Homo sapiens: one gene and its partners. The protein of the gene in region 1 binds, or shares a complex with, the protein of each later gene. Each region holds a gene or a part of one and is shown on either strand. Other genes may lie near its edges.

Region 1 (8,620 bases):
CTGAGATGTCTGAATTTTTACTAACTTAACAGAATAAAAGAAAACAAAAGTACAAAGTGACAGTGCTGGTACCATGCCAGACACAAGTTCCTCTCAAACTCCAAGAAGGGTCAGTAAGTGAGGGGATAAACATCTTTTCTCTCATCAGCCTCCAGGATGAGAAGATGGTGTGGTGGGTGCTGTGCGGTGCACTGGTGCAAAGTCCCAGAGGCCAAGATTCAGTCCAAGCTCTGCTATGACTGCTTGGGTGACCCTGGGGAGGCCACTATGCTTGCCTGAACCAATTTTCTCAACTGTACTGGGTAGCAGAGAGGTACAGAACATGGGCTTAAAAGTCTACCGACGGTCGGGCATGGTGGCTTATGCCTGTAATCCCAGCACTTTGGGAGGCCGAGGCAGGTGGATCTCTTGAGGCCAGGAGTTCGAAACCAGCCTGACCAACGTGGCAAAACCCCATCTCTACTAAAAATACAAAAATCAGCCAGGCGTGGTGGTGGTGCACACCTGTAATCCCAGCTACTTGCGAGGCTGAGGCAGGAGAATCGCTTGAACCTGGGAGGCAGTGGTTGCAATGAGCCAAGATCATGCCACTGCACTCCACCCTGGGTGACAGAGTGAGACTCTGTCTCAAAAAAATAAAAATAAAAATAAATAAATAAATAAATAAATAAACAAAAGGTCCACCACAGACCAGCCCTTCTGCTCATCTGCTGGGATCCTAGATAAATCACCCTCTCAAAACCTCCATTTCCTCTCCTGATTTTTTTTAAAGGTAGGGGGAATATCCTTTATCCTCCCAGAATGCTGCAAGAATTAAATGACAGCTCGTATCTACAGTACTTGATACAGCGCCCCAGACATGGTATGTGCTCACTAAATTGCAGCTGGTACCGTTATTGCTGAGTGAGGTAATGACACTGCCTCTGCCTACATCACAGGGCATTGTGAAGATCTGATGAGATGTATGCTGGGAAAGAGCTTCGGAAGTAGAGAGTGGGACAGAAGTGAGAGCAGTTACATAAGGATTCTGCTCCCATCCCAGCCCCAAGCCTCAGCCACCACAAGTGAGGGCAGGGGGAGAGTTACTGGAGGGTCTTTACTCATCCTATGAACAAAATGCTTTTTTTTGAGACAGGATCTCACTCTTTTGCCCAGGCTGGAGTGCAGTGGTGCAATCATGGCTCACCGCAGCCTCAACCTCCGGGGTTTAAGCAATCCTCCCACCTCAGCCTCCTGAGTAGCTGGGACTACAGGCGCATGTCACCACACCCGGCTAATTTTTGTACTTTTTTGTAGAGATGAGGTCTTGCTATGTTGGCCAGGCTGGCCTCGAACTCCTGGGCTCAAGGGATTCTCCCACCTCAACCTCCCCAAGTGTTGGGATTACAGGCGTGAGCCACCGCACCCCATCCCTACCGACACAATTCTCATCAGCTATTTATTTGGGTACCAGCTTCCTACTAGATAGCAAACGGCAAATCGGAAGGGGAAAGGTGGGCTGCTACAAGCAGGTAATGACAATTTCTGCTAATAATAACCCAGTCCAAGAATCTTCAGACTTCCAGCGGGCCATTCCTGATCCCTTCAAATCCGGACATCTCCATGGTCCTCCAGTCACTGCCAATGGACCTGACGCTCCACGAGGTCACAAACCCTAGCCCAACTCCTCAGACTCTTCCATTCAACATCCCTGTCCCAAGCTACCCCAAAAACCACGGGGTCTTTTCCCAAGACTTCCACAAACATATCCCCTTCCCCCCAACCCCAGTCTACCCCCGTTCCGAGATGCCTCCTCATGTTGCCTTCGGGCTCTACAAAATTCTCCCCCCTAAAGCATCACCCCAGGGTAACCCCTAACTCGTCCTCATTGGCACCATCCCAGGACCCTCACCTCCATACTGGACATGCCCAACACCCCACACTCCAGTTCAGGGCTCTCTACCTACATCCTACAACACACGTGCCATCTCAGTGCCATCGCGCCCACTCCTGCACACCCCCAAAGTGGAACTTCCACTCTTAAGCTCTCCCATCCAGGCTCCTAGGGTACATTCCCTGCTCTGTCCACACTTCCACTCCAAAGAACCCTTCCCTGCACTGTGCAGCCACACATGCCCGGGATCCCCAAAGTTTCTCCTCAGAGGGGAAGGCACACACCTTCATCCTGGACCCCTTGAAACCCTCCTCCCACCCCTCGGGTCCTTACACAGCCCTCCTTCCGTGCCCACCGTCCAGTCGCCCCGAAACACACCGATCCCAGGTTCCCGACTTCCTCTCCCTAAATCCTCCCGGTTCCCCATCTGGACCCGCTCTTTCCCAGCGGGTCCCAAGTTCCCCCCTTGGACGCTCCCACCTCCAACCTGCACCTGGCTAGGGCCATGGTCGGGGTCGGGGTCGGGAGTCCCTCGGCGCCCGGCAAGCTTCTGCTTACTCCCACAGGAGACCACTCAGGTCTCCCAGACCCCTCCAGCTCCTCTCCACACCCTTTCCCGAGTTCTCTTAGCCTCCCCTCCAGGGCTCGAGTCGCCTCTCTCAGGAGCCCCGCGGCCAGCGTGCTCAGTCCCAGTCCCAGTCCCACTCCCAGCTGGTTGTGGTCCCTCCGCCCCTTTCTCTCGGCCGGTCCCGGTGATCCCTCCCACCCCCGGTCCCTCCACTCCCACCTCGGGCCGTCCCGGTCCCGTCCCACCCCGGAGTGCCCTCAGGACACCCCTCGGACGGCCCCTCACTCGCCCTCCGGGACCGTCGCGGTCCCCTCCCGCCCCCCCGCCGGCCGTCCCGGCGGCCATTGCTCCAAGATGGCGGCGGCGGCGGCAGCGGGTGAGGCCGGGCCGGGCCGGGCCGGGTTGGGGGTCGGGGGTCCCGGGACAGCGCTCACCTGTAACTCGGCGCGCTCGGCCTCCCAGCGGGCTTTCTCGGCTTCGAAGCGCGCCCACTCGTGCTGGATAAAGTGCAGGATCCCCGGCAGGCTCAGGGGCTCCGGGCCCGCCGTGGGCCCGGGGCTGCCTCCGCCGCCGCCTCCCTTACCTGCCGGGCCCGGCCCGGGGGCAGGGGCGGAGACCGGGGCCGCCCCAGTGGGGCCAGGGCCCGCGCCTGAGCCGAGCGGACGGCAGGAGGAGGCGGCGGCGGCGACCGCGGCGGCCGCTCGCTCCTCCATCATGGAGGCCCCGGGGCCGGCCTGCGCGCCCGCTGTGCCTCGCGCGCCTGCGCGGCCGCGCCAACACCCCCCCCCCTCCCCCGCCGCAACCACCGCGCGCGCGCCCGGCGGGGGACAGTAGGAAGGGGGGCCGGCGGCGAGCGCGAGCCTCGCCCACCCGGGTCTACACCGAAGGGTAGCGTGCCCGCGCGGGGGCCGGCGGGTGGGAGATCGCGCCCCGAGGAGGGCGAGGGAGACCCAGGCCCCGCGCGACGGTCCCCCTCGCTGGAGTGAGACTGAGGAAGGGGCCGCTTTCTGCCCCCCTCCTCCCACTTCGCCCCAGAGAAAGAGCCTTACCCCTTCCACACCCAAACACCACTCTCCTGGACAATTACTTTTACTCTGAGAGAAAGGGCGACCAGCAGTGGCCCCATCCTCTCTGATTGCCGGCCAGGTTGGTTGTCATGGTAACCCTTCCCCAGCGGTGGGGGCGAGGTGGTGGGGAGCAGCCTTCCCCTCGCTTCCACCTTTGTGGTTATGGAGCCCCAAACCTCTTAGGACTCTGCACCAGGAGAAGGTTGCTAAGGTAACCTAAGTGTCCGTGGTGGTCCTTCTGCTCCTATCCTCATTGATTACTATGGCAACCTCCCCCCCACCTAGCATTCAGGTAGAAAGGACCCCAGCCCCAAGGACACTGATCTCTAAGAGAAGCACCTCTTCCCCAGCCCCTCCCCCATAGCCACCTAGTTGGCATTACCATGGTAACCGTCTTCCCCTTCCCATCGTGGGAGGCCCATGCACCAAACTAACCAGGTGTTTTTATTTAGAGGAGATGCTCTGCTGAGGGGCAGTTGCTATGGTTACAGGGCCTGGACCTTCCTCCGGAAGGTGAGAAACAGGCAAGTTCAAGGCCTGGTTACTATGATAATAGAGCAGCCCCCTTCGAGTGACCCTAGGAACCAAGCCCAACAAAGGAGGGGATTTTTTTTTTTTTTTTTTTTTTTGAGACAGAGTGTAACTCTTGTTGCCCAGGCTGGGATGCAATGGCCCAATCTCGGCTCACCACAACCTCCGCCTCCCCGGTTCAAGCCGTTCTCCTGCCTCACCCTCCCAAGTAGCTGGGATTACAGGCATGCGCCACCACGCCCGGCTAATTTTTTTTTTATTTTTAGTAAAGACGGGGTTTCTCCATGTTGGTCACGCTGGTCTTGAACTCCCGACCTCAGGTGATCTGCCTCAGGCCCGCCTCGGCCTCCCAAAGTGCTGGGATTACAGGTGTGAGCCATCACGCCCGGCCAGGGGATGTTTTAAGAATGTCTCTCAGAGGTAGAGTGTGTCTATGGAAGGGGTTGTCATGGTAACAGCTTCTGTTGGCTTCTAGCCCTACCTTTTCTGGACACATTCATGCTAGAGGGATGGTTATAGGTTGCTATAATAACTGACATCCCTCCCATTCACCCCACCCCACTCCTGAGACACCCCAGGTGGTGCCCGAGATTATAGGACTTCAAGAGAAAGGATTCCCTGACCTTTCTCTTGCCACTTTTGTGGATAAGATGAAATTGTGCTCTATTGTACGGAAATGGCTGATTTGGGATTTTCTGGTTCTCCTCCTCTCAGGAGCGCAGCTCAGCTGGGCTGGAACTGCCCTCCTGGAACTCCCCCAGCCTACAACCTAGGAGGTAAGAAGTCCCTCAGTGTCACCTACACTCTCATGGAAACTGCCCTTCCTCATTCCTTAAGGCTTTCCCATGTCTCTCATTTTTTTCTTTTTCTTTCTTTCTTTTTTGAGACGGAGTGTCGCTCTGTTGCCCGGGCTGAAATGCAGTGGCGCGGTCATGGCTCACTGCAACCTCCACCTCCCTGGTTCAAGCGATTCTCCTGCCTCAGCCTCCCGAGTAGCTGGGATTACAGGCACCTGCCACCACGCCCGGCTAATTTTTTGTATTTTTAATAGAGATGGGGTTTCACCTTGTTGGCAGGCTGGTCTCGAACTTCTGACCTCGTGATCCGCCCGCCTCGGCCTCCCAGAATGCTAGAATTACAGGCGTGAGCCACCGCGCCCAGCCCTCTCATTTTTTTCTAACCGTCACATTCCCATTCCACAGGTGCAGGGACTGAGGCTCAGGCCAAATCGCAACTCAGACCCAGTGAACCCAAGGCCTGAAGAGAATTTGGATTCATTTACCTTGTTTTGTGGGGACTGGAGAGACAAGTAAACTCTCAGAGTAACTGTCCCCTCTGACTACCATTTCTAAGGCAAGCCCCCTGTTTCTACTCTTGCGCCCCCTGCTGGTTTCCTGCCCTGTCTGTAAGTTGCATGGCTTTTGTCCGTCTTTTTTTTGTTTGTTTGTTTGTTTTGAGACAGGGTCTCACCCAGGCTAGAGTGAAGTGGAGCAATCTCGGCTCACTGCAACCTCCGCCTCCTGAGTTCAAGTGATTCTCACACCTCAGCCTCCCCAATAGCTGGGATTACAGGTGCGCACCACCATGCCCAGCTAATCTTTGTATTTTTTGGTAGAGAGGGGGTTTCACCATATTGCCCACGCTGGTCTCTAACTCCTGACCTCAGGTGATCTGACCGCCTGGGCCTCCCAAAGTACTGAGATTACAGGTGTGAGCCACCACACGTGGCCCTGTCAGTCTTCTTTCTGTCTTCTGGAGGGCTGACCTAATGAGTACCTCGTTCATTCTGTATCCTCAAAACATGGGGTCCACCACAAAGAATACTTGAGTTTGTTGAGTTACTGAGTTGAATTAATTTATTAATGTGCCATAGCCAAGCTTTGAAAGCCCCTGTCAGGTTAGGGCTGGGGAAGGCTCACTAAAGATGGGCTGAGAGTTGGGGCTTCAGAAAGAACCCAAGAGAGAAGGTAAAGTTTACTGGTTTAAAGTACGACTCTGTAGCCAGCTTCTTGGATCAACTCTTGGGTCCACTACTTCACATTGTGTGACCTTGAATAAGAGACTTTAACTCTTTAACTCTCTGTGCCTTTGTTTCCTTTTTTTTTTTTTTTTTTTTTGAGATAAGGTCTCGAGGCCAGGCGCGGTGGCTCACGCCTGTAATCCCAGCACTTTGGGAGGCTGAGGCGGGCGGATCACGAGGTCAGGAGATTGAGACCATCCTGGCCAACATAGTGAAACCCCATCTCTACTAAAAATACAAAAATTAGCCGGGCATGGTGGCGCATGCCTGTAATCCCAGCTACTCAGGAGGCGGAGGCAGGGGAATCCCTTGAACCAGGGAGTTGGAGGTTGCAGCGAGCCGAGATTGTGCCACAGCACTCTAGCCTGGTGACAAAGCGAGACTCCGTCTCAAAAAAAAAAAAAAAAAAGAGTCTGGCTCTGTCACCCAGGCTGGAGTGCAGTGGCACAATCTCAACTCACTGCAACCTCTGCCTCCTAGACTCAAGTAATCCTACCACTTCAGCCACCAGAGTAGCTGGGACTACAGGTGCACACCACCATGCCCGGCTAATTTTTTAAATTTTTTTGTAGAGACGGGGTCTTACCAGTCCATGCTGGTCTCAAACTCCCAGGCTCAAGCAATCTCCCCCAGCCTCATCCTCCCAAAGTGCTGGGATTACAGGCATGAGCCACCACATCGGCTGGTTTCCATTTTTAAATGTGATCATAACACGAGGATTAAACAAGTGAATATGCCTAAAGTGCTTAGAACAGGGCCTGGCACATGGTGAGCTGCTAGAATTGTTATTATTATCCTCCCGATTCAGAAAAATGTAGAACATTCAGACCTTCAAAATCATCATTGTATCCACTTTGCCCCAACGAAGGGGTTTGTTGCCCTTAGAGGCGGTGAAGTCTGCATGGCTTTATCAGGGTACTAGATGATTCCTTTCCCCGCCTCAGGTTCCCTCACACCCTCACCAGCAGGTGGCACCTCTTCATCTGGCCATCAAATCTGCTGGTGTCTGGTCTGCGAGGGCCAAGAGTTGTGCTGGGCCTGAGGGTAGCCAGGACCTGGCTGCTGTCCTCTGCCCTGCTGGGCACCTCCTTCCTGGCCCAGAGTCAGTCAGACAGTGTGGCAAGAGCCAGGGCCTCAGAAGCGGAGACCTCGGTTCTCGACCCTGCATCCTTCTTATCTCTCTGAGCCAGAGGTTCCTATCTTTCGTTTTTGAGACTGGGTCTCGCTCTGTCGCCCAGGCTGGAGTGCAGTGGCTGAATCACAGCTCACTGCAGCCTCCACCTCCTGGGCTCAAGGGACCCTCCTGCCTCAGCCTCCCTCCTAAGTAGCTGAGACCACAGGTAGGCACCACCACGCCTGGCTGATTTTTGTATTTTTTTAGAGACGGGGTTTTGCTATATTGCCCAGGCTGGTGTTGAACTCCTGAGCTCAAGCGATCCTCCTGCCTCAGCTTCCCATAGTGCTAGGATTACAGGAGTGAGCCCCCATACCCAGCCCACGTTCCTTATCTTAATAATTCAAGTCACTCATTCATTCAACACGTATTTATTGAGCACCTGCTATGCACCAAGCACTGAGCTGTGCTCTGGGGATACAGTAGGGAAGAAAACAGATTCCCTGCCTTCCATGGAGATTCTGACAACAAACAAGCTAAGTAAAATCCACGTGATAACTACTAGGGGAGCAAAATAAAGCAGGAATGGGGGATAGGAAGTACATGGGAGATGCTTTTTTTTTTTTTTTAAAGACAGACAAGGTCTCGCTCTATTGCCCAGGCTGGAGTGCAGTGGCGCCATCACAGCTCACTGCACCCTTGACTTCCCCAGCTCAAGTGATCCTCCTACCTCAGCCTCCTAAGTAACTGGGACTACAGGTGCAAGCCATCACATCCAGTTAGTTTTGTTTATTTTTTGTAGAGATGGCATCTTACTATGTTGTCCAGGCTGATCTGAAACTCCTGGTCTCAAGCGATCTGCCTACCTCAATCTCCCAAAGTGCTGGAATTACAGGTGTGAGCCACTGCACCTGGCCAAGATGCATTTTTTTGTTTATTTACTTATTTTGAGACAGAGTTTTGTTGTTGTTGCCCAGGCTGGAGTACAATGGCATGGTCTCAGCTCACTGCAGCCTCTGCCTCCTGGGTTCAAGCAATTCTCCTGCCTCAGCCTCCCAAGTAGCTGGGATTACAGGCGCCTGTCACCATGCCCAGCTAACTTTTTTGTATTTTTTTTTTTTTTTTTTTTTGAGACGGAGTCTTGCTCTGTCGCCCAGGCCGGACTGCGGACTGCAGTGGCACAATCTCGGCTCACTGCAAGCTCCGCTTCCCGGGTTCACGCCATTCTCCTGCCTCAGCCTCCCGAGTAGCTGGGACTACAGGCGCCCGCCACCGCGCCTGGCTAATTTTTTGTATTTTTAGTAGAGATGGGGTTTCACCATGTTGGCCAGGCTGGTCTTGAACTCCTGACCTCAGGCGATCTGCCCACCTCGCCCTCCCAAAGTGCTGGGATTACAGGCATGAGCCACCATGCCCAGCCCACCAAGATGCATTTTTAAATAGGATG
Region 2 (4,375 bases), on another chromosome or scaffold:
GGGAGCCTCCCTCTTCCCCTAGTCCCCTGCCAGCTTCTGGGATGGAGTCCTGGGGCTGCTCTGAGAGCAGGGGATTCCTGGTAGAGGCCTGGAGACCCGGCTGTCCTGAGATCATGTGTGAGGGACTTTTGGAAACTGCTGCACACACTGCAGCCATGAGGGCTGATTGTTCCTGGGTTTACCCTGCAGGAAGCAGGTGACAGTAACCAATTTTGCTGGAGGAACCTCTTTTCTTGTATCAATCTGCTTCGGATCTTGAACAAGCTGACAAAGTGGAAGCATTCAAGGACAATGGTAAGTGAGTCAGTGTAGTCAGCAGGCTTGGAACTTGGAGCTCAAAGAAGAGTGCTGGGAGCAGGGAGTCCCCAGGGTGGGGCTCACTGTGCCTTCTCACTTAACTTTGCTGTAGCCGTATCCTTGCATTTTAAGGGCCAATTCCCAGTTCCTTGATGAATTGAACTGGAAGCTGGAAGAGGCCCAGTCATGCACTGAAACAAATCTACATTTATAGAAGAACTTTTTCCATGTCGTCTTAATCTTGATTGGTAACATAATCAGGGTTCTGAGAATCTTCCTTAACTCTGGGTCTGTGGATGCCTTTGGGGTGGGGAGGTCCTTGAATCCTCTGATAACTGTGTGTACATGTACACCGGAATGTTTCTGGAAGGAATCCATAGCTTTCTTCAGATTCCAAAGTGACACATAGTTAGGGTGACCAACCATCCTGGTTTGTCTGGAACTCTACTGGTTTTAGCATTTAAAGTCCTATGTATCAGGAAACTCTTCAGTCCAAGGGAAACTGGGATGGTTTGTCACCCTGACAGTAACTTCCAAAGGGTTAAGCAGCAGTGTGACCTGGGATGTATGCATTTATTTTTGTCTTCAACTTGGGCTGCTTGCTTGTTTCCCTTCCCAGATGCTGGTGGTGTTCAAGTCAGCCCCCATCTTGAAGCGGGCCCTAAAGGTGAAACAAGCCATGATGCAGCTCTATGTGCTGAAGCTGCTCAAGGTACAGACCAAATACTTGGGGCGGCAGTGGCGAAAGAGCAACATGAAGACCATGTCTGCCATCTACCAGAAGGTGCGGCATCGGCTGAACGACGACTGGGCATACGGCAATGGTGAGACTCTGCACTCAGCCAGATTTGGGTGGGAGTGTGTCGGGAAAAGTGACATCTTTCACTCCCTGCCCGTGGTACTCAGGTACTTCTCTGCCCTGAGCTTCCCCCCAAGGAACAGGAAGGAGCCCAGCTCCTGCTTTTGTAGCATCAGGATGGGCACTCTAGGAAGGACTTTGAGAAGCTACCCAGCCTTGGCATCTGCGATCATCCCCATCTCTCCTTGTACCTCCAAGTCATTCCTTTTCTAGAAATTGTCATAAGACTGTGTCCCCTCTTTTCATCCCCATTTTGGCCACCTAAACTCTTACAGCTCTTGACTGACTTCCCTGCCTCTAATTTCTTCCCCTCCATCAGTGTCTCAGATTTCCCTAGTGATCCTTTTTTACTTTGATGTTTTTTAAAGATAGGGTCTCGCTCTGTTGCCCAGGCTAGAGTGCGATCCTGGCTCACCACAACATCTGCCTCCTGGGCTCAAACTATCCTCCTGCCTTAGCCTCCTGAGTAGCTGGAACCACAGGCACATGCCACTGTGCCCACCTAATTGTATCTTTTTTATAGAGACAGGGTTTCACCATGTTTCCCAGGGTGGTCTTTTTTTTCTTTTGAGACAGAGATTCTGTCGCCCAGGCTGGATTGCAGTGGCACAGTCTCAGCTCACTGCAACCTCTGCCCCCCAGGTTTAAGCGATTCTCCCCCCTCAGCCTCCCAAGTAGCTGGGACTACAGCTGCACGCCACCATGTCCAGCTAATTTTTGTATTTTTTGTAGAGATGGGGTTTCACTGTGTTAGCCAGGCTGGCCTCGAGTTCCTGGCCTCAAGAGATGCACCCACCTCGGCCTCCCAAAGTGCTGGGATTACAGGCATGATCCACTGTGCCCAGCCTTCTCAGGGGGTTCTTGAACTCCTGGGTTCAAGCGATCCACCAGCCTCGGCCTCCCAGAGTGTTGGGATTACAAGCGTGAGCCACTGCGCCCGGCCCCCTAGTGAATCTTTTCAACATGCAGATCCTGTGCTGTTACCTCCCTGAGTAAAATCCTTCATTAGCTTCCTATTTCCCTTAGAATTAGATTCAGACTCAGGCAGGGCATGTGAGGCTCCCTCGTCCTTTTTCATTCTCCTCCTCTGTAATCTGACCCAGCTTCCTTTTCAACCTTGTTACGGGCTGTCAGTCCAGCCTCCATCATACCCAGAGCTCCAGGCACAGGGAGTGCTCAGTCCCTGAACATAGCCGTGTGGTTCCCACTACTAGGCCTCTGCAGGCACTCTTCTTTCGCCCACAGTGTGTCTCCCCTGCCCACCTGGGCTGCTCTGTGTGTGCGTGTTGCTGCGTTGTTGCGTTTCTGGAATATACCACCATGGCTGAATGACTGTGTCTGTACTCTCAATGCCCTGTGAATGTGTGCAGGCCCACAGTGGCACACGGTACCTGGTTGGGGAGTTGAGAGAGAATGAGCAAAGGAGAAGATCTCCAGGTTCCTCCCTCTGACCCCAGAGAGCCAGGGAGAATGCCACTTTGAGAGAAATGTGTTGTACACATGGTTCTCCCTCTCTGGGTCTACATAATCCCTACAGTATAAGCCTCTTTCTCAGTACCTCTGGCTTTTCTGCTTGTACTTGACTCTCCTTTGGATCTAGGAAGGAATTCCTGGCATCTTTCTGAGGATGAGCTCGGAGGTATCCTGCTCTTAGTTGACACTCAATATTCCTGGCCAGTGAATCCATGGGGAGCTGCTACAGGGCATGGCTCCTAACGGTGTTTCTTCCTGCTTTGTCTCAGATCTTGATGCCCGGCCTTGGGACTTCCAGGCAGAGGAGTGTGCCCTTCGTGCCAACATTGAACGCTTCAACGCCCGGCGCTATGACCGGGCCCACAGCAACCCTGACTTCCTGCCAGTGGACAACTGCCTGCAGAGTGTCCTGGGCCAACGGGTGGACCTCCCTGAGGACTTTCAGATGAACTATGACCTCTGGTTAGAAAGGGAGGTCTTCTCCAAGCCCATTTCCTGGGAAGAGCTGCTGCAGTGAGGCTGTTGGTTAGGGGACTGAAATGGAGAGAAAAGATGATCTGAAGGTACCTGTGGGACTGTCCTAGTTCATTGCTGCAGTGCTCCCATCCCCCACCAGGTGGCAGCACAGCCCCACTGTGTCTTCCGCAGTCTGTCCTGGGCTTGGGTGAGCCCAGCTTGACCTCCCCTTGGTTCCCAGGGTCCTGCTCCGAAGCAGTCATCTCTGCCTGAGATCCATTCTTCCTTTACTTCCCCCACCCTCCTCTCTTGGATATGGTTGGTTTTGGCTCATTTCACAATCAGCCCAAGGCTGGGAAAGCTGGAATGGGATGGGAACCCCTCCGCCGTGCATCTGAATTTCAGGGGTCATGCTGATGCCTCTCGAGACATACAAATCCTTGCTTTGTCAGCTTGCAAAGGAGGAGAGTTTAGGATTAGGGCCAGGGCCAGAAAGTCGGTATCTTGGTTGTGCTCTGGGGTGGGGGTGGGGTGTTTCTGATGTTATTCCAGCCTCCTGCTACATTATATCCAGAAGTAATTGCGGAGGCTCCTTCAGCTGCCTCAGCACTTTGATTTTGGACAGGGACAAGGTAGGAAGAGAAGCTTCCCTTAACCAGAGGGGCCATTTTTCCTTTTGGCTTTCGAGGGCCTGTAAATATCTATATATAATTCTGTGTGTATTCTGTGTCATGTTGGGGTTTTTAATGTGATTGTGTATTCTGTTTACATTAAAAAGAAGCAAAAATAATTCCCGTTGGCTTGTCTACAGGAAATATGGCCTCTACGTATCTCCTCCAGGTCTAGAAAGTGGTTTTTTCTGCTAGCATTGCTGGTCAACGCTTGTCCTTGTCAAGCTGCCTGCCTTTCCCATCCTGGGGGAAGAGGAGAGAGAGTTGGCATTTATCCAGTGTAAGTTAACCCCACAGTAATCTGGGATTGCTCTAGCCCAACTCCAGGGCACTAGGTTACTTTACTGACACATTGTCCTGCACCCCTGGGTTTGCTGTAATTTCAGTAGGAGCCCCAGGTTTCTCTGGATCACATCACTGAGCTGGCCTCAGCCAAACCAGTGTCAGTGCTATGGAGGGAGGGGCTAGGTCAAAGCAAGGGGGTCTGCTGCTCTAGGTCCTCCCTGGGGCAGGTGGTTGGGACTGAGGGGAAACTTCAGTACTCAGAGCCTAGGAAGCAGACCATCAGGAGTCAGGTTCACGGTGGGAAAAAGTGTTGGAGGGCCCAGGAGCCCCCTGT
Region 3 (7,857 bases), on another chromosome or scaffold:
CAGAGGGCAAAGGCCAGGCCAGGAACAGACCTTCTGTGAACTGTGCAGGGCCGTCCCCTTGTGAAGCTTGCTGTGTGGACTCGGCCGGATGGTAGGGGGGAACGTCCAGATGGGGCCCTGCTCCCCGTCCTCCGCCTCGCCATCACTGAAGAGGATGAGGAGTTGCCAGGGCCAGTGGGGAGAGGGCCAGGAGGCATGAGGGCCTCAGGGCACACCTCACGGCCAAGGGAAACCCGAGGTACCAGACGGGGCTCTGCCAGGCCACGGGGTCCAGCTGATGCCTCAGCAGGCCCTGTCCTGCAGCCTTGAGGGGGTCCCTGCCCAACACTATATCTGGTCACCCTCACCCCCAGGGCCCACGCCCCTGCTTCTGGAGTGGGGACCACCCACGTCACAGCACCTAGGGTCACCATGAGGATAAACCAGGTCCCTACATGTCAGAGTCCTCAGAGCTGGACTCCTCGCCATGCCCCTCTGACTTCCAGCGCTTATAGCGGTCGATGAGCTCCGTGAGGAAGGAGGTCTTCTTGGTGTAGCGTGTGATGAACTTGTGCTTCAGGAGCTCCTTGGCCGTGGGCCGCTGCAGGGGGTCAGGGGAACACTAGTCACTGGGCCCAGCCAAGCTCTGCCTAAGGGAAGCAAACGTGAGGCAGCCTGGACCGGGGCGGGCCCTCACAGCTACAAGGCTGGTGGGCCTGGGCCTCCGGGCTGTGCCGCCCACCCCAAGCGAACGCCCTCCCTCCACGTCCTGTCTAGAAGGGACCGGGCCAGAGGCGGGCCTTACGAATCGGGGGTCTTTGTTGAGGCAGGCCTCCACGAACTCCTTGAAGGGCTTGCTGTGCTGGCCCTCCAGTGTGGGTGGGCTGTTCTTGGGAATCAGGAACAGGACGCGCATGGGGTGGAGGTCAGAGTTTGGAGGCTCCCCCTTGGCCAGCTCGATGGCTGTGATCCCCAGGGACCAGATGTCAGCCTGGACAGAACACAAGGACTGTTGCTGCCCTGAGCACCCGAGCCAGGCATGGTGCCCGCACCTGCCCGCCCGCTGCACCCACCTTGAAGTCGTAGGCCGACTGCTTGATGACCTCAGGTGCCATCCAGAAGGGGGTGCCCACGAATGTGTTCCTCTTAATCTGCGTGTCTGTGAGCTGCCCTGCTACCCCAAAGTCCGCCAGCTTCACGTCACCCTGCTCCGAGAGTAGCACGTTGGCAGCTGCTTGACACAGGACAGGCAGGCGTCATCCCAGGCTCCACGTGGCTCCACCCCGGGCCCCCTGAGAAGGGCCAGGGTACCATCCACCTGGCCTCCTAGGGCACAGCAGGGCTGTCCTCAGGACCTCAGCCCTCCTTGCCACTCTCAAACCCAGGGCCACCTAGGGCCACAGGGGCACTGCCAGCAGGAGCCCAACGGCTCCACTCCGAGCTCCAGGGCTCTTCCTGCATTTGGCTTTTACGACAAATCCCAACGACAAGCGACTTCGCCCACTGGGGGCTACCGCAGAGGTGACCCTGACCAAGGGTGTAGCCAACACGGGCCTGCCAGGAAGCCCCCTGCTCCACCAGAATCGTCCCCTACATGACAGAGATGGCTCGTTGCCAGTGGCAAGTCCCTCCCCATGGGCTGGCCCAGCCTCCCGTCTGCTCTCAGCAGGGCCAGACCACACGCTGGGGCTACTCAATTCTACACCTGCTGCTGTGCCGTGCACCACAGGGAACCAACAACTCCAGCCAAGTGTGGCCCTTTCCTACACTCAGTCCACAGCTGGTTTCCTCAGCGTACAAGGAAACCGTTACAAGTAGTATCTTCTGGAAAGGGAGCGAGACAGGACTGCTCAGTTTCAGGGTGGCCACAAGGTTCTCTATACTCCAGACCCTGGGCACCACTAGCCACTTGCCCCTCACAGGCCCCGGCCTCTCTAAGGTCAGTGGGGCTCAGGACGTTACAAGAGCCACATCCACCCCCAGCAGGACCTTTGATGTCTCGGTGGATCTTGCGTTCGGAGTGCAGATAATCCAGGCCCTTCAGAATCTCCCGCAGGATCGTGGCAATGTATGTCTCCTCCAGGGGACCTGGTTTAAGCTGGAGAGGAAGGTGCGACAGCAGGGCCTCAGCTCCTGTCCCAGGCCCAATGCCTGAGTTCTCTGCCTCTCTCACAGGGAAGGGCTGTCCCTGCAGATAGCTGGGGGCTTCGTGTTCCTTTACTTCCCAAACAGAACTAAGTTTCAGATGGGAGTGGGGTGGTGGAGGCTCTTTCTAAAGCATATAAACCAGCCTCACCTTACTGTCATGTAACAGAAAAATAGGCTCCCAGCCATCTCCCAGCAGGCCTGCCCCCGCCCACTCCCACAGGCCAGGACCCCTTTCAGCACCAACTGGGCAGACGTGCAGATGGCAGTTCATTTTTGCTTTAGACGATTCCTAATTAACACCTAACGTGCCATGACACCAAACGAGAGGTGGCCCCTGGAGCCCATGAGTCTGAGGGGCAGGGGACTCGGACACTGCATGACCCCCCACTGCCATGGCCTATGCCTCACCAAGTCCAGTGCTGAGCCGCCGCCCAGGTACTCCATGATGATCCATAGCTTGGTGCTCTGGGACCGGAGACAAACCCATCAGCATTTGGCAGCAAGAGGAAGGGCATGCTCCAGGGTGGGAGTCACAGGCCGGAGTCAGCCAGGGCCCAGGCCCCACCGGTCCCATCCCTGCCAAGAACCCTGAACAGGAAAGGGCTCTCTCGGCCTTGCCCATCTTCCCCTCCTGCCACACTACTGCTACAGATGCTCAGAGGACAGGTTGAGTACACACAGCAGTGGCTGACTCCACTTCACCAAGACCCCATCAAAAACCAGGCTGCTGATCCAGTCCTACAGGGCTGGGAAGAGGGCATGGCTGGCAAGCATGTGACCCGACACACCCATCACCCTCCTGGGCAGGATGGCCACAGCGTTCCCTACACCCCAGACACTGGCACCACCAGCCACCTGCTCCTCACAGGCCCACTCACCACTGCCAGTAGGGGCCCCCCAGAGTGCTCCTAGCAGCGCCCTCACTGCATTACCACAGGCAGGCAAGTGGGTCCCAATGGCCATTTAGAGCCAACTGACCCTCGTGGACGAGGGCTCACACCCTGCCTGCCCAGGGCAGTTTCCCGGAGGGCATGCACTGAACCGTCAAGACCGCCTTGCACCCTCTGGCATGTCACTCAGTCCCTCTGACATGGAAGAGAGCCGGGCACAGCACCAGCAGGGTCCCCGCCTCCCCACAACAGGCACCTTTAGGTAGGAGCCAAAGTAGCGGGTGATGTAGGGGCTGTCGCACTGACTGAGGACAGTGATCTCCTGCTGGATGTCCTCGATCTCATCCTCGGCCTCCTCCAGGTCGATGATCTTGATGGCCACCACCTCCTTTGTGTGGTTATCGATGCCCTTGTAGACCTCCCCAAACGAGCCCTTGCCAATGCGGTCGAGCTTGGTGAAGAGCTCCTCAGGGTCCACTCGAGAGTGCTGTGGGGCCAGGGCGGGGACAGAGGGCAGACAGCGCCGGTCACAAGAGGCGGGGGACAGGCAGAGGCTGCCCTGCTGGGGAGGAAGGGACCTGTAGGGAAGGGGGAGTCCAAGGGAGCGCACCTCAATTCTTCTCTGGTTTCTTCCTTTCTCCCTTTTTGTTCAAAAACTAAACTTGGCCGGGCGTGGTGGCTCACGCCTGTAATTCTAGCACTTTGGGAGGCCGAGGCAGGTGGATCACTTGAGGTCAGGAGTTCGAGACCAGCCTGGCCAGCATGGTGAAACCCCATCTCTAATACAAAAAAATTATCTGGGCGTGGCGGCTCATGCCTGTAATCCCAGCTACTCAGGAGGCTGAGGCAGGAGAATTGCTTGAACCCGGGAGGCGGAGGTTGCAGTGAGCCAAGACCGCACCATTGCACTCCAACCTGGGCAACAAGAATCAAACTCCATTAAAAAAACAAACAAACAAACAAATAACAACAACAAAAAAACCTAAACTGAACTTTCCATGCAAGGGAAAAAGTCCCCAGAAAGTATAAAGAGGCCAGGCCAACTCGATGAACCCTGCTGGAAACAGGAGCTTTAGGTGATGACACGGCATGAAGGTTGCCTCATCTAACCCGAACAACATGCCAGCCCCGTGACAGATGTTAATAGGTGAATGGCCCCTGGGGGTGAGGGGGGATTTGGGAGCTCTTACTTAATTTGTTATAAATCTGAAATTACTAAAAAATAAACTCATCAGGCCAGGCTTGGTGGTGCACACCTGAAATCCCAGCACTCTGGGAGGCCAAGGCGGGTTGATCACCTGAAGTCAGGAGTTCGCAACCAGCCTGACTAACATGGTAAAACCCCATCTCTACTGAATACAAAAAAAATTAGCCGGGCGAGGTTGCGTATGCCTGTGATCCGAGCTACTTGAGAGTCCAAGACAGAAGAATCACTTGAATCAGGGAAGCGGAGGTTGCGGTGAGCCGAGATCGCACCATCGCACTCCAGCCTGGGCAACAAGAGCGAAACTAGGTCTCAAAAAAATAAAAAATTTAAAAAAAAAAACCTCATCAAAAACAAAAAACCTCAGTATGTGTTAACCAAGTTCTCCTCCACTCCTGAAAGTCACGTATTTAGAAAGGGCTTCCCTCACCCCTCCATAAGTCCTCCTGACAGCTACACCAGCGCGGAGTTAGAAACTTGATGCTTTCTTGATGCAGAAAGCTGCCTCACACAGTCCTCAGATTTAAAGAAGCAATGCCTAAAAGTTTCTGAGCCAGTGGTGTGGAAGGTGCCTGGGGTCTGTGGCCCAGGCCCAGAGTCCAGGGGAAGCCAGCAGAGGTGTGTCCTCAAGCCTCGACCCTTTTTTAAATGTTTTTGAGATGGCTTCTCACTCTGTCACCCAGGCTGGAGTGTAGTGGTGCAATCTTGGCTCACTGCAACCTCTGCCTCCTGGGTTCAAGCGATTCTTCTGCCTCAGCCTCCCAAGTAGCTGGAATTACAGGCATGCACCACCACTCCCAGTTAATTTTTTGTATTTTTAGTAGAGATAAGGTTTCACCATGTTGGCCAGGCTGGTCTCGAACTCCTGACTTCAGGTGATCTGCCCATCTCAGCCTCCCAAAGTGCTGGGATTACAGGCGTGAGCCACCACGCACGGCCCCTCCCCTAACAACATCAAGGGTCTTGATGCCAATTTAGTGTGGCAGAGCATAAAAAGGCAAAACAGCCTGGGCGCGGTGGTTCACGCCTGTAATCCCAACACTTTGGGAGGCCGAGGCGGGCAGATCACGAGGTCAGGAGATCAAGACCACCCTGGCTAACATGGTGAAACCCCGTCTCTACTAAAAAATACAAAAAATTAGCCGGGTGTGGTGGTGGGCGCCTGCAGTCCCAGCTACTCGGGAGGCTGAGGCAGGATAATATCATGAACCCAGGAGGCGGAGATCGTGCCACTGCACTCCAGCCTGGGCGACAGAGCAAGACTCCGTCTCAAAAAAAAAAAAAAAAAAAAAGGCAAAACGACTAATTATGCCACAAAAAAAAACACTGAAGACAGGACAGGTCCTTGGGTGGGGGTGCCCTGCACGTTCCTGGGCCTGCGGAGACCGTGCCCACCAAGAAGGATGGGGTACACCACACACAGCCCTCACACTCACCCCCTGGACACCTGTGTGCTGGGTCCACCCCAGGCCTAAGCCCAGCGGAGGAGCTGGCTGAAGCCAACTGGACATCGCACCAGCCTGAGGCGACACTTCCGTGTGAAACTGCCAATTAGCTGACCTCCCAGGGTTCCTAACCAGGAGGGTGGAAGGGGCGGCACACAGGCCCCCACCTTGAAACATGCCGCTGCACATCCCTTTTTGAGTGCCAGACCTCGAGGTGACTGGAACTCTGGGGAAGGAAAGGCAGTTAGGGGAGGGCCAGAGGCCACCTAACCTTTCCCTGCAAGGCTGGCTTGTCAAGGCCCGGGGGTGTGCAGGTGGCCTCCATGCAGCAGCTAGAGCAGGCCAGCTGCAGTGTACACACAGACCCTTGCTTAGCCCAAAGGTCTGGCCAGTTGAGACAGCTGGTCGAGTCAAAAGTGACCTTTCTCATTCTCTCATCAGTACAGCAGCCCAGTCCTAAAGCCAGTACCCATGGAGGAAACAGCAGGGGGTGCCTTGAGCCCACCTGCTACCAGGAGTCCCCAAAGCCAAGGTCAAGAAACTCGGCAGGATAGAGAGAGCTGAGTACTGCCTGGGGTCATTCCGGTCAAGGTGAGCTGTGTCTGCCCCCAGCCCCATCACTGCTGCTGACCATGTGTTCTAAAGAGAAGCCAGGAAAAATTCAAAGCTGACAAGTCACAGGTGCTCAGCTGTCTCCGGGTTGAGGGTGGGTGGCACAGATGAGGTGAGAACCAGCCCCTATCTGAAAGGAAAGTCAACCCAGAACATGCAATCTTTTTTTGAGATGGGGGGTCTCGCTGTGTGCCCAGGCTGGTCTCCTCAGCCTCCTGAGTAGCTGGGCCCACAAGTGCATGTCAAAGCATAAGCTCATCAGCCCACTGGCTGTCATAGGTAAGCAGTCAGTGTTAAAATATCACCCTCCTGCCATAGAGAGCATCATCTCCGTTTCCTCCTCCCTGTTTGCTCCATTTCTGGTGGAGGACCACCCGTTCCTAGCCCAGTCCTGGATGCCAGGTGCAGGACAAGGTTAAGAAGCAGCCCCTCTTCTTTTTCTTTTTTTTTTTGAGATAGAGTCTCACTCTGTTGCCCAGGCTGGAGTGCAGTGGCGTGATCTCGGCTCACTGCAACCTCCGCCTCCCAGGTTCAAGCGATTCTTCCACCTCAGCCTCCCGAGTAGCCGGACTTACAGGCACCCGCCATCATGCCCCGTTAATTTTTTTTTTTTTTGAATTTTTGTAGAGACAGGGTTTCACCATGTTGGCCAGGCTAGTCTCGAACTCCTGACCTCAGGTGATCTGCAGAAGCAGCCCCTCTTCTGCCTGCTCCTCCTCCAGCAGGCCCAACGCCACCTTGTCAAATCCTCCCTGTTTGCTCAGCCCATCAACGCTTACTCGGGGCCCTGGGACGCTGCTCCACCGAGCCGTTAGCCTGTAGGCCTGGCCTCAGCCTCAACCCAACCCTGCCCAAGCACCCGGAAAGACCCCAAGGGAGTCCTCCTGGGGATTCCAGAGGTCTGTTGGTGCCCTGAGCTTGTGTCCTCCCATCTACTCCTGTCTAAGGTGGCCTGAGAGAGGGCCTGGAGAAAGCAGGGCCATGACCTGGCAGCATTACCCAGCACCACCACCCCTCCGACTCTTCAGGCCTCTCTGGATGACGCGTCCTCCCGCCCTGCTCTACTCCCTGCTCCCTGCTGAGGCCATGCTGCTCTCCACACAGGGCCTGGAGCTGAATCTGCTCCATCACAGCAGCCCCGGTAGGGAAACCCCTGGGTGGGCACTCAGACCTCTACTGCTTCACAGCAGGGGAGCACAGCGGACCCCTAAGCCAGAGCCAGGGCTCATCAGCCCAAGCAGAAACTGTGTGACAGGAACCCTCTTGGCTGTGATCCTGGCCCTACAATGACATCGCAGGCCAAGCCAAGGCAAGCCATCCCCACCCCCACCTGGAGAAGAAAGGGTAAGTGGGCCCCTGGCCTGGAGGCTGCGAATCCTCTTTTGGATGTAGCAGCAGCTGTGGCCTGGATGATCACTCGGGCCACTCAGCTGACTCGAGCGGTGGACACCTGTTCTCCACATTAGCCCTGGGGCTGCCAGGTCTGGGGCCTCCACTTGCCAATGTGTCTGCTGTCAGTGTTGCCCCACAAAACAAGGGGAATGACCCAGCACACATAGCTGAGTGGTGATACAGTGCT
Region 4 (7,857 bases), on another chromosome or scaffold:
AACAACCTCAGGAAAAAATTAAGCCCGAAAGAGAAATGACTTGTTGCTCAAAGTCCTACAGTTGGCTAAAAACACAAAAGTTCTTTGAGGAAAAGTGGAAGAAACTCAAGGAAAAAAGAAATCCATAGAAAGAACCCAAAGTAGTCACTGGGAGTTGTCCATGGCCTAGGGGCTCTAGGTTACATTATGACCACCAGGCACCATCCCTCATTCCAAGCTACCTGCTCCTCTGGCCCCCTAGGAACCACTCTGTAGCCAGTTCCAGCCATTCAGTCACTTACTGCCCCAGGGTGAATCCGATGAACTTGTTCCTGCTCATCTCCAAGAAGTGCTCAATGTCCTTCTGTCTGAGAGGATGGTGGAAAGACCAATCCCAGAGAAGGGAAGAAAAGCAAACTTTGAGAGAGAAAAACTTTCCGGGCTCCTATCCCTCCAATCAGAGGACTGGAGCAGTGGAAAAAGGCAGCAATCAACAGAAGGAATTTCAAACCCAGGAGTTCTGACTGCCAGACCAACTTAACGAGCCTTGAATACATAGACTACCCCATCTTGGGCCTTTGGAGACTGAAACCCCGAAGCATAGGGGTCCCTGATGCTATCAAACCTACCTGACCTTTGGGGCCCAGGGCAGGCCCTTGGGAAAAGCCACCCGCTCAGCAGAGAGGGGTGCCTGTGAGGGTGGAGGTGGCACCAGAGGGTCCTGCTCTAGCAGGTCTAGCTCTCCATCCAAGGTTCGTTCTCCATCACCAGCAGACTCCTCTTCCTCCTCTGTGGCGGGCTCCTCAGTCTTGAAGAGATCCCTTTCATTGTAGATGTCCAGGCTGTCCTGCTTAGTGAGGAGTTGCTGGAGGGGAAAGAAGGGAGGGTAGGCATGCAGAGATCTCACTCTGGGCATCCTTGTCTGAGGCCACCCCATATCCACAGGCCTCCACATTTCAGGGAACATGGAATCTGAACACAGCCCTTGCGAAAACATCCAATTCCCCACCTTAACCTACTGTCCCCACCCGGCCCAATAACAGGACAAGAAGTTCTCAGGTAACCCTGCCATTAGCCAGGGAACATAGCATAGATAATCCCAAAGTCACAATTACTTAGCTTTCAGAAAGCAGTGATGCCTTTTTTTGCCAGCACTTTCCTTCCTAATTATGCTCTGCTTAGGTGAACATTCAATTAGTTTGCCTTCTGTGAGCATACACCAGCTGGCTGACTGAGGAAGAGGAGGACAGAAGCTTGCTGCTAGGCAGAGGGAAGCAAGTTTGGAATTTTAAATCTTGTGACAAAGAAAAAAAGATTGGACAGAAATAGGCCAAAAAGTTAACAGTGACTGTCTCTGGTTGTTAAGATTGTGGGTGATTTTTCTTTTCTCCCTTCATCACATTTTTATATTTGTTCCAAATTTTCTACAATGAGTAAGCATTACTTTATAAAACAAAAATAAAGTTAAAAAATTTTATTGCAGATAATGGAGACTGGATTACTGAGCACTACTATCTAGCCCTGTTGATAAACTGAAGTGGGTCAGGCAGGGGAGTTTGTAAGAACATAGTCAGATCTCAGTATAACTTTTCATTCTGACCTTTTCAGGACAGCAGACTATAGTCATGTGCTGCACAACGATGCTTCAGTCAACAATGGACTGCATATGTAATTGTGGACCCATAAGATTATAATACTGTATTTTTATTGGCCTTTTCTAGGTTGAGATACACAAACACCATTGGGTTACAATTGCATATGGTGTTCGGTATAGTAACCTGCTGTACAGGTTTGTAGTCTAGGAACAATAGGCTATATGCCTAGGTGTGCAGTAGGCTATACCATCTGGGTTTGTGTAAGTACACTCTATGATGTTTGCTCAGTGACAAAATTGCATAATGACACATTTTTCAGATTGTATCCCTGTCGTTTAGTGTCACATGGTTATATACATAGACCCCTACCCAGTCATCTCTTAAATGTAAGCCTTTGGTTCCAGGGCCAGTTAAGAGTGTGGCTGGCTGACAGTAAAACTTCCTGGTGCTTCAAAATAGTAAAATGCCTTACCCCAGAAAAATGGATTTGCTTGGAGACCTGTTCCGGTATCCTGGGTCCCTATCCCCAGGATTATACCCTTAATTGTTATTCAGAATGTAAGGAACTCCAGGCACTGAGGTCCAGGCCAATGATTCTGTAGCAAGACATGGCTATATATGACATGATATCACAGTGTCACATCACAACAGCGCAGGGGGCTGTCAGGGCTGGGGGACAGAGGCCAAACTAGAGACCCTAAGATTTCAGGTTGGTCATAGGGCCAACCTGGGCAGGATGAGCCGGGTCATTTACTGCTTTTTCCTACCACACCCAGAGTAACTTAGAATCTTGATTTTTGGCCAGTCGGTGTCCCAATACCATTGTCTGCTTCAGTCCATACCCTTCGAGAGCCACGGCGGCCTCGCAGCTTGGAGGGTGGGGGTGCCAGCTGAGACTCTCCCAGGTCAAGAGTGTAAGAGGGCGGGGAGGCAGCACGCATGCTCTTCACCACCTGGATACTGTCTTCAGCCAGTGGAGGCAGGCCCAATTCTGCCCGCTTCTGTACTTTGAGAGTCTGCAGATGCTCAAATCCACCGAGGGTAAACTAAGGAAGAAACAGGAAAGGGGCAGAGAGAGAGGAAGGAAGGGAAGTAAGAGAGAGCCAAGGTCAGGGAAACATGGATGAAAAGAAAGGGCCACAACCTCCAGTCCCTTCAGACCTTTTCCTTAATAAGGAGGTAGTAAAACATAAAGAGGCAAATATGATTACCATCCCCACGGCAACTGAGGAGCTCAGGGGTCAGGATAAGGCATTATTTACTGCCCCAGTATGGGAAATATCACAGAATTTAGGAAAGGAATTCCTGCGGGCCTCCTCAAAAAAAAAAAAAAAGAAAAAAAAGAAACTATCGACTTTTTTAAGGAACACCATCCAGGTGCTATAAACCCCCAGAGTCACTCAATTTCCTCTGCAGTCAAGAGGCAGTTCCCCCTATTAGGCCTGCCTTGTGAGATGGGAGCCAAAAATGAAGGATCAGGTTGAATAACTAGTAACAGAAATGTAACCACATATTTATAAGAACTTCATTATTTTTTAAAAAGCAAATCCTGGCCAGGCACAATGGCTCATGCCTGTAATCCCAACATTTTGGGAAGCCAAGGTGAAAGGATTGCTTGAGACCAGGAGTTCAAGACCAGCCCAGGCAACACAGGGAGGCCTGTCTGTAAGAAAAAATTATTTTTATTAAAAAAAAAATACAAAACCTCTGTTTATCTGGAGGGAGGGCAGGCACTCACCCCAACCTTTTACAGCTAGAGAAATTGAGGCACAGAGAGTTGCCCAAAGTTTCTCAGTATCAGCAAAGCCCAGATCTACCAACTTTCAACCAGTGTTCTCTCCATCAAACATTGGCTTTAATAAGAGAAGGTACCACTGACATCCCCAATTTATGGAGTGGCATCTCCCATCCATCCAATAGAAACATGAAACCCATTCTAACATAGAACATCTGATGTCTCTAGGACAGCCTTGTTGCCCCTCCATATTAGCAGTTGGCTAAGGGCTGCCTGTTCTGCTCCCTGGATCCAGCCTCCTGGAATGAGACTAGAAGAAACTGAGGTGGCATAGGGCATTGCTGATCTGATAATGTGGGAGTGGGGAGAATTACTCACCATGACCACCTTCCAGAGCAGGAGCAGGACCTTCTTTATGGGGAAGTGAGGAGCCAGGCCACTGCAGAACTTGGTAACCATGGAGAAGAGTAAAAGGGCAAAAGGCTCCTCATTATGCATGGAGAAGCCTAGGGGTGAGGAGAGAGGGGAGTGAGAAAGTGAGGATGAGGCAGCTAAAACCTTTTTCATGTAACCCTGATTCTGGACACACACAGGAAGGCACTCACCTCCCCTGAAGAATACCAGAGTACTTGGTCCTGAGAAGGAGGCTTAGCCCCCAGAAGGAAGCCCCTCAAGGGCAGGAAGGGACGCCATGGAATTAAAATGGCATAGGCCCCAGAGCTTAGGGTGACGCTTTGGGGTTGGATGCCAAACTAGAAGTAACAATAATGAAGACATTGCTTTCTGGCTAAAGGACTCAATGTCATTCACTTTTCCACATCAATAAATATATTTTTAAAATCCCATAGTCCTTCATATCCTATCCCTGTCAGATGACAACACCAACTTACATTTGAACAGAACTCAGTTTTCAAGGTGATTCAACTCATTTTTTCATGTGGGACTCGTGATAGAGTGGGAGAGGAATGGCTATCCCCACTTATAACCAAGGAAACCAAGGCATAGAGAAGTTACATGGCTGGTCTTAGCTCATAGATACAGGGCGGCAATCAAGCCCAGCCCTTGTGCCTGCCATGCAGTATCTGTGTCCTAAAAGAAAGGACATTAATTTTAAAAAAGAAAACAAAAGAAAAAACGACTGTCTGCCTCTCCTAGGCAGATGCTCTGCTTCCCCTCTCCCATTAGCACCCCATCCACACCTTCCTCAAGTGCCATTTCTTACTTAATTCAGTGCGGAAGGTCTCCCGGGCTGTTCTCCACCCACAGGGGTCTGTCTCTCGCTCCAGGCGAATATTTTCCACCATTAGGTACATAACACTCAGCAGCACCCTGGGGTTACAGAAGAGTCACAAGAGGTTCCCAAGGCAATTCCCAGCCCATAGTCACAGACCTCAGAGATGGTCTCTGTGGGAAGCCCAACCCAGTGAGATTAGCTACAGGGCAACTTCCTAATGGTCTGAGTCATCTGGGATTTGGGGAAAAGGTAACCCAGGTGCTAATCATCTGCCCTGTTCCAAGCCCATAGTTAGCCCCACTCACCTGAGCTCTGTGCTATCAGCTATGGAGACAGCTGGTTTCCGAAGGGCACTGCTACAGGCCTGGCTGTTGCTGCCAGGGGAGGAGAAAAAGAACAGGAATGCATAAGACTTCTTTTCTCTCTGTGCTCTTACTTATCACTCACACAAATATGAGTGCTTGCCATTCCCTGGCTAGGCAGCCACTAATGAAACTGGTCTAGAGTAAAGGAGCTGACAGAATTCCCCTGCCACCTCAGCAAACTCTCATCTATGGTGAAGACAAGGCAAGGGCAGGATCTGTGGTATCCACTCCTCTTGCATTCCCCACTATGCTTAGAACTGTGCTGGACATAAAACAGATGCTAAGAAACACCTGATGAATAATAAGCAGATTGCACCCTATCTCAAACTCCTGGGTGATGGGCATGAGACAAAACAAGGGGTCACTGTAGTGGTAGCAGCAAATAAGGCCACCTCTAGAACTATAGCCCATGAGGGAAAGAATTGGGCACAATGACAGGAATTGATTTCCTGTCTTTCTTGGGTCATGCATTCAAAATAGTTTCCCTCTTGAATTCCAGAGTTAGGCTGAGCTAAGAAAGTCCTTGAATAAAAAGAGAACCCACTCAGGATAGGCCCCTGAAGCCCAGGATTAAAGCTGTAAGTGAGGCAGAAGCTGCAGATGTATCCAACCTCAGGGAGGGAGAACAGAATATCAGAGAACATGGCTGGATGGAGGGGAACTGTCAATGAGCTTTGGGCTGAGGTGTGAGTAGACCCAGTTCCTCACAGGGGGTCTCTATAGTGAGGGAAGCAGCATAGAACATGAGGCCCCTTTAAGGAATGGGGGTTATGTAGGCCAGCCCTTCCCCTAAGGCTTCTCACTCAATTTCCATGTGGAGTAGCTCCAGGAAGGTGGAGAAGGTCCCCATCTGATACAGCAGGAAGCAGTTGTACCTGGACCAGTGTAGCACATCGACCTCTGAATCACATTCCCCAAAAGTACCTAAAGGACCAGACAGTTGTTACAGGGGTTGAGGGGTGGCAGTATCCCAGTTCTTTCCACCCTGCCCCATGATCTTAAGATTTTCCTATAATACTCTGCCTAATAATTAGGCTGACATAGGTATGACAGGGGCCCCAAGAACTTCCTGGAATGAGTCAGGGGAGAGGAGAGGTAGTCTCCAGGGTTAGGTCCAATGTGCTCATCAATGGCCTATCGTCTTAAGGGTGAGTTCTCCCAGAAGCAGATCCTGAGGTAAGTAAGGATTCCAGTGCAAGTAGCTTATTTGGGAATCATTCCCAGGAATCATCAGTAGAGATAGGGAAGAAAAGGAAGCCCAAAGAGTTCACTCAGGGGATAATTTGGAAACAGTATAAAACACACAACTCACAGTTATTCTATCCAAGAGGGGTGAGACAGTCAGGCTATCCATCCACTAACTCCTGTTAGTCATTGGATGAGGGTGCTAAACTAAAGGAGCACACTGATTCCCTACACTTCCTGGATGCCCTGTATGGGCTGCAGAGAAGGCCCTTGAGCAGAAGCTGAGCATGGTGGCACATGCCTATAATCCTAGCTACTTAGGAGGCTGGAGCAGGAGGATAGCTCGAGCCTATGAGTTCAAGACCAGCCAGGGAAACACAGTGAGACTTTCTTTTAAAAAACTTAGATAAATAAAGTCCTTGGGCAAACATATGAAGGTACTGGCAGTTGGAAGTTGGCCAGAGCACCAGACCCAAGAGATACAGGAGGGCACAGTCCTATTTGCTAGTCTTCTCTTCACCTAATGTCCACCCTTTCCCCTCTTCATTTATTATTTTTTTATTTTACAATTTTTTTTTTAGCTCCCAACTGGTTGGTTCTGTTAACACGCCTTATATTTATGATCGTAGGCTTATTTTCACTCCAGCTAGGCTATCTCATTTCCCTTTCCAACACCTGGCTAACAGGTTTCTTCTGAGCAGCTTTCCCCAATTACTCTATTTAGTTCTGATCATCTCCAAATTACTCACAGCATCCACTCCCGCAGTTATGTTGGCTTGAACTTTCAAAATGCCAATGAGAAACAATGCAAGGGGTCCATGTGTATCTGTGACACTCTCCTATTTCTCCTCAGTTTTGGGGCCAGGCCACAGTTGATGTCTTGTCTCCATGATCAGCTGGTGGTACATATCAGCTCTGGCCACACCTCTTGCTAGTATTCACATATGATTATAGTACAGGGTAGGGAAAAGAAGAACCCTATAAAAAATTCTGACATACCTGGTAAGATAAAGGCAGATCCCGAGGGATCTAGAACAGCACTCAACACTATCTCATCTTCCTCATAAGCACAGGTTACTCCTAGCACATGACAAGATCTGTCCTTGAGAGGCAAGAAACCTTGCTTTCCCAGCACAGCCTGCGTCATCTCAGTCCTGATAATGCCCACTTCCCTCTCAAGCCTCCACCCCTCTAAAGCTAGCAAGGGTGGTCACTCACCTTGGGCCAGGTAGAGAACAGCCCGGGCCACCTTCAGCCGCCGTTCCCTACTGACCACCTCTAGCCGGTCCAAGAGTCCCATTATATAGGCCTTTTGGGCATCTTCTTCCAACTCCAGCCATTCCTTGCCCTGCACTGGGAATAAAAGGCCATATACATCCAGTGTCAGCTATTGCCACCCTTCCTGGAAAGGCTCCTCATAGCATATCCACCTCTGATCTCAGCTCCCCTGCCAAAATTATTTTCTCCAAAAGCTTTCCTTATTTCACTGAGAAAGAATAAGGTATGGGAAAAGGACCCAAAATGTTCTGGCCTGAACCCAGTCTATAGCCTCACCTTCAACATCCCCTCTGTCCTCCACACACAGCCCATACTGTCCTGTCTTTCTGCCTTTCCTCAAGGAGTTCCCTCTGTCTCCCTACATATTCAATTCCTAGTCATCCTTACAGGCACAATACAAAATGACCTCTTTCCCAGTCTTACATGCCCAATATAAAAGGACCTTTCTCGGCCGGGTGCGGTGGCTCACGCCTGTAATCCCAGCAC

What was found.
Region 2: STRN4 (region 1) and STRIP1 share a complex: the UniProt entries of both Homo sapiens proteins name them as parts of the core of STRIPAK complex.
Region 3: STRN4 (region 1) and STK25 share a complex: the UniProt entries of both Homo sapiens proteins name them as parts of the core of STRIPAK complex.
Region 4: STRN4 (region 1) and STRIP2 share a complex: the UniProt entries of both Homo sapiens proteins name them as parts of the core of STRIPAK complex.

What each region holds. Positions count from the first base shown.
Region 1 is NC_000019.10:46,743,274-46,751,893, forward strand, and holds the start of STRN4 (striatin-4), read right to left. Parts: upstream 3,178-8,620; 5' UTR 3,158-3,177; coding exon 2,876-3,157; intron 2,818-2,875; exon of another isoform or gene 2,784-2,817; intron 1,512-2,783; exon of another isoform or gene 1,487-1,511; intron 1-1,486. UniProt on the Homo sapiens protein: Calmodulin-binding scaffolding protein which is the center of the striatin-interacting phosphatase and kinase (STRIPAK) complexes.
Region 2 is NC_000001.11:110,050,767-110,055,141, forward strand, and holds the end of STRIP1 (striatin-interacting protein 1), read left to right. Parts: intron 1-189; coding exon 190-294; intron 295-916; coding exon 917-1,121; intron 1,122-2,898; coding exon 2,899-3,146; 3' UTR 3,147-3,875; downstream 3,876-4,375. UniProt on the Homo sapiens protein: Plays a role in the regulation of cell morphology and cytoskeletal organization. Required in the cortical actin filament dynamics and cell shape. Part of the striatin-interacting phosphatase and kinase (STRIPAK) complexes.
Region 3 is NC_000002.12:241,498,205-241,506,061, forward strand, and holds part of STK25 (serine/threonine-protein kinase 25), read right to left. Parts: intron 3,505-7,857; coding exon 3,274-3,504; intron 2,593-3,273; coding exon 2,536-2,592; intron 2,078-2,535; coding exon 1,969-2,077; intron 1,211-1,968; coding exon 1,053-1,210; intron 971-1,052; coding exon 785-970; intron 581-784; coding exon 435-580; intron 146-434; coding exon 31-145; intron 1-30. UniProt on the Homo sapiens protein: Oxidant stress-activated serine/threonine kinase that may play a role in the response to environmental stress.
Region 4 is NC_000007.14:129,451,202-129,459,058, reverse strand, and holds part of STRIP2 (striatin-interacting protein 2), read right to left. Parts: intron 7,447-7,857; coding exon 7,312-7,446; intron 6,940-7,311; exon of another isoform or gene 6,843-6,939; intron 5,833-6,842; coding exon 5,712-5,832; intron 4,918-5,711; coding exon 4,849-4,917; intron 4,639-4,848; coding exon 4,532-4,638; intron 3,816-4,531; coding exon 3,688-3,815; intron 2,621-3,687; coding exon 2,417-2,620; intron 2,360-2,416; exon of another isoform or gene 2,047-2,359; intron 1,237-2,046; exon of another isoform or gene 977-1,236; coding exon of another isoform or gene 845-976; coding exon 609-844; intron 348-608; coding exon 282-347; intron 1-281. UniProt on the Homo sapiens protein: Plays a role in the regulation of cell morphology and cytoskeletal organization. Required in the control of cell shape. Calmodulin-binding scaffolding protein which is the center of the striatin-interacting phosphatase and kinase (STRIPAK) complexes.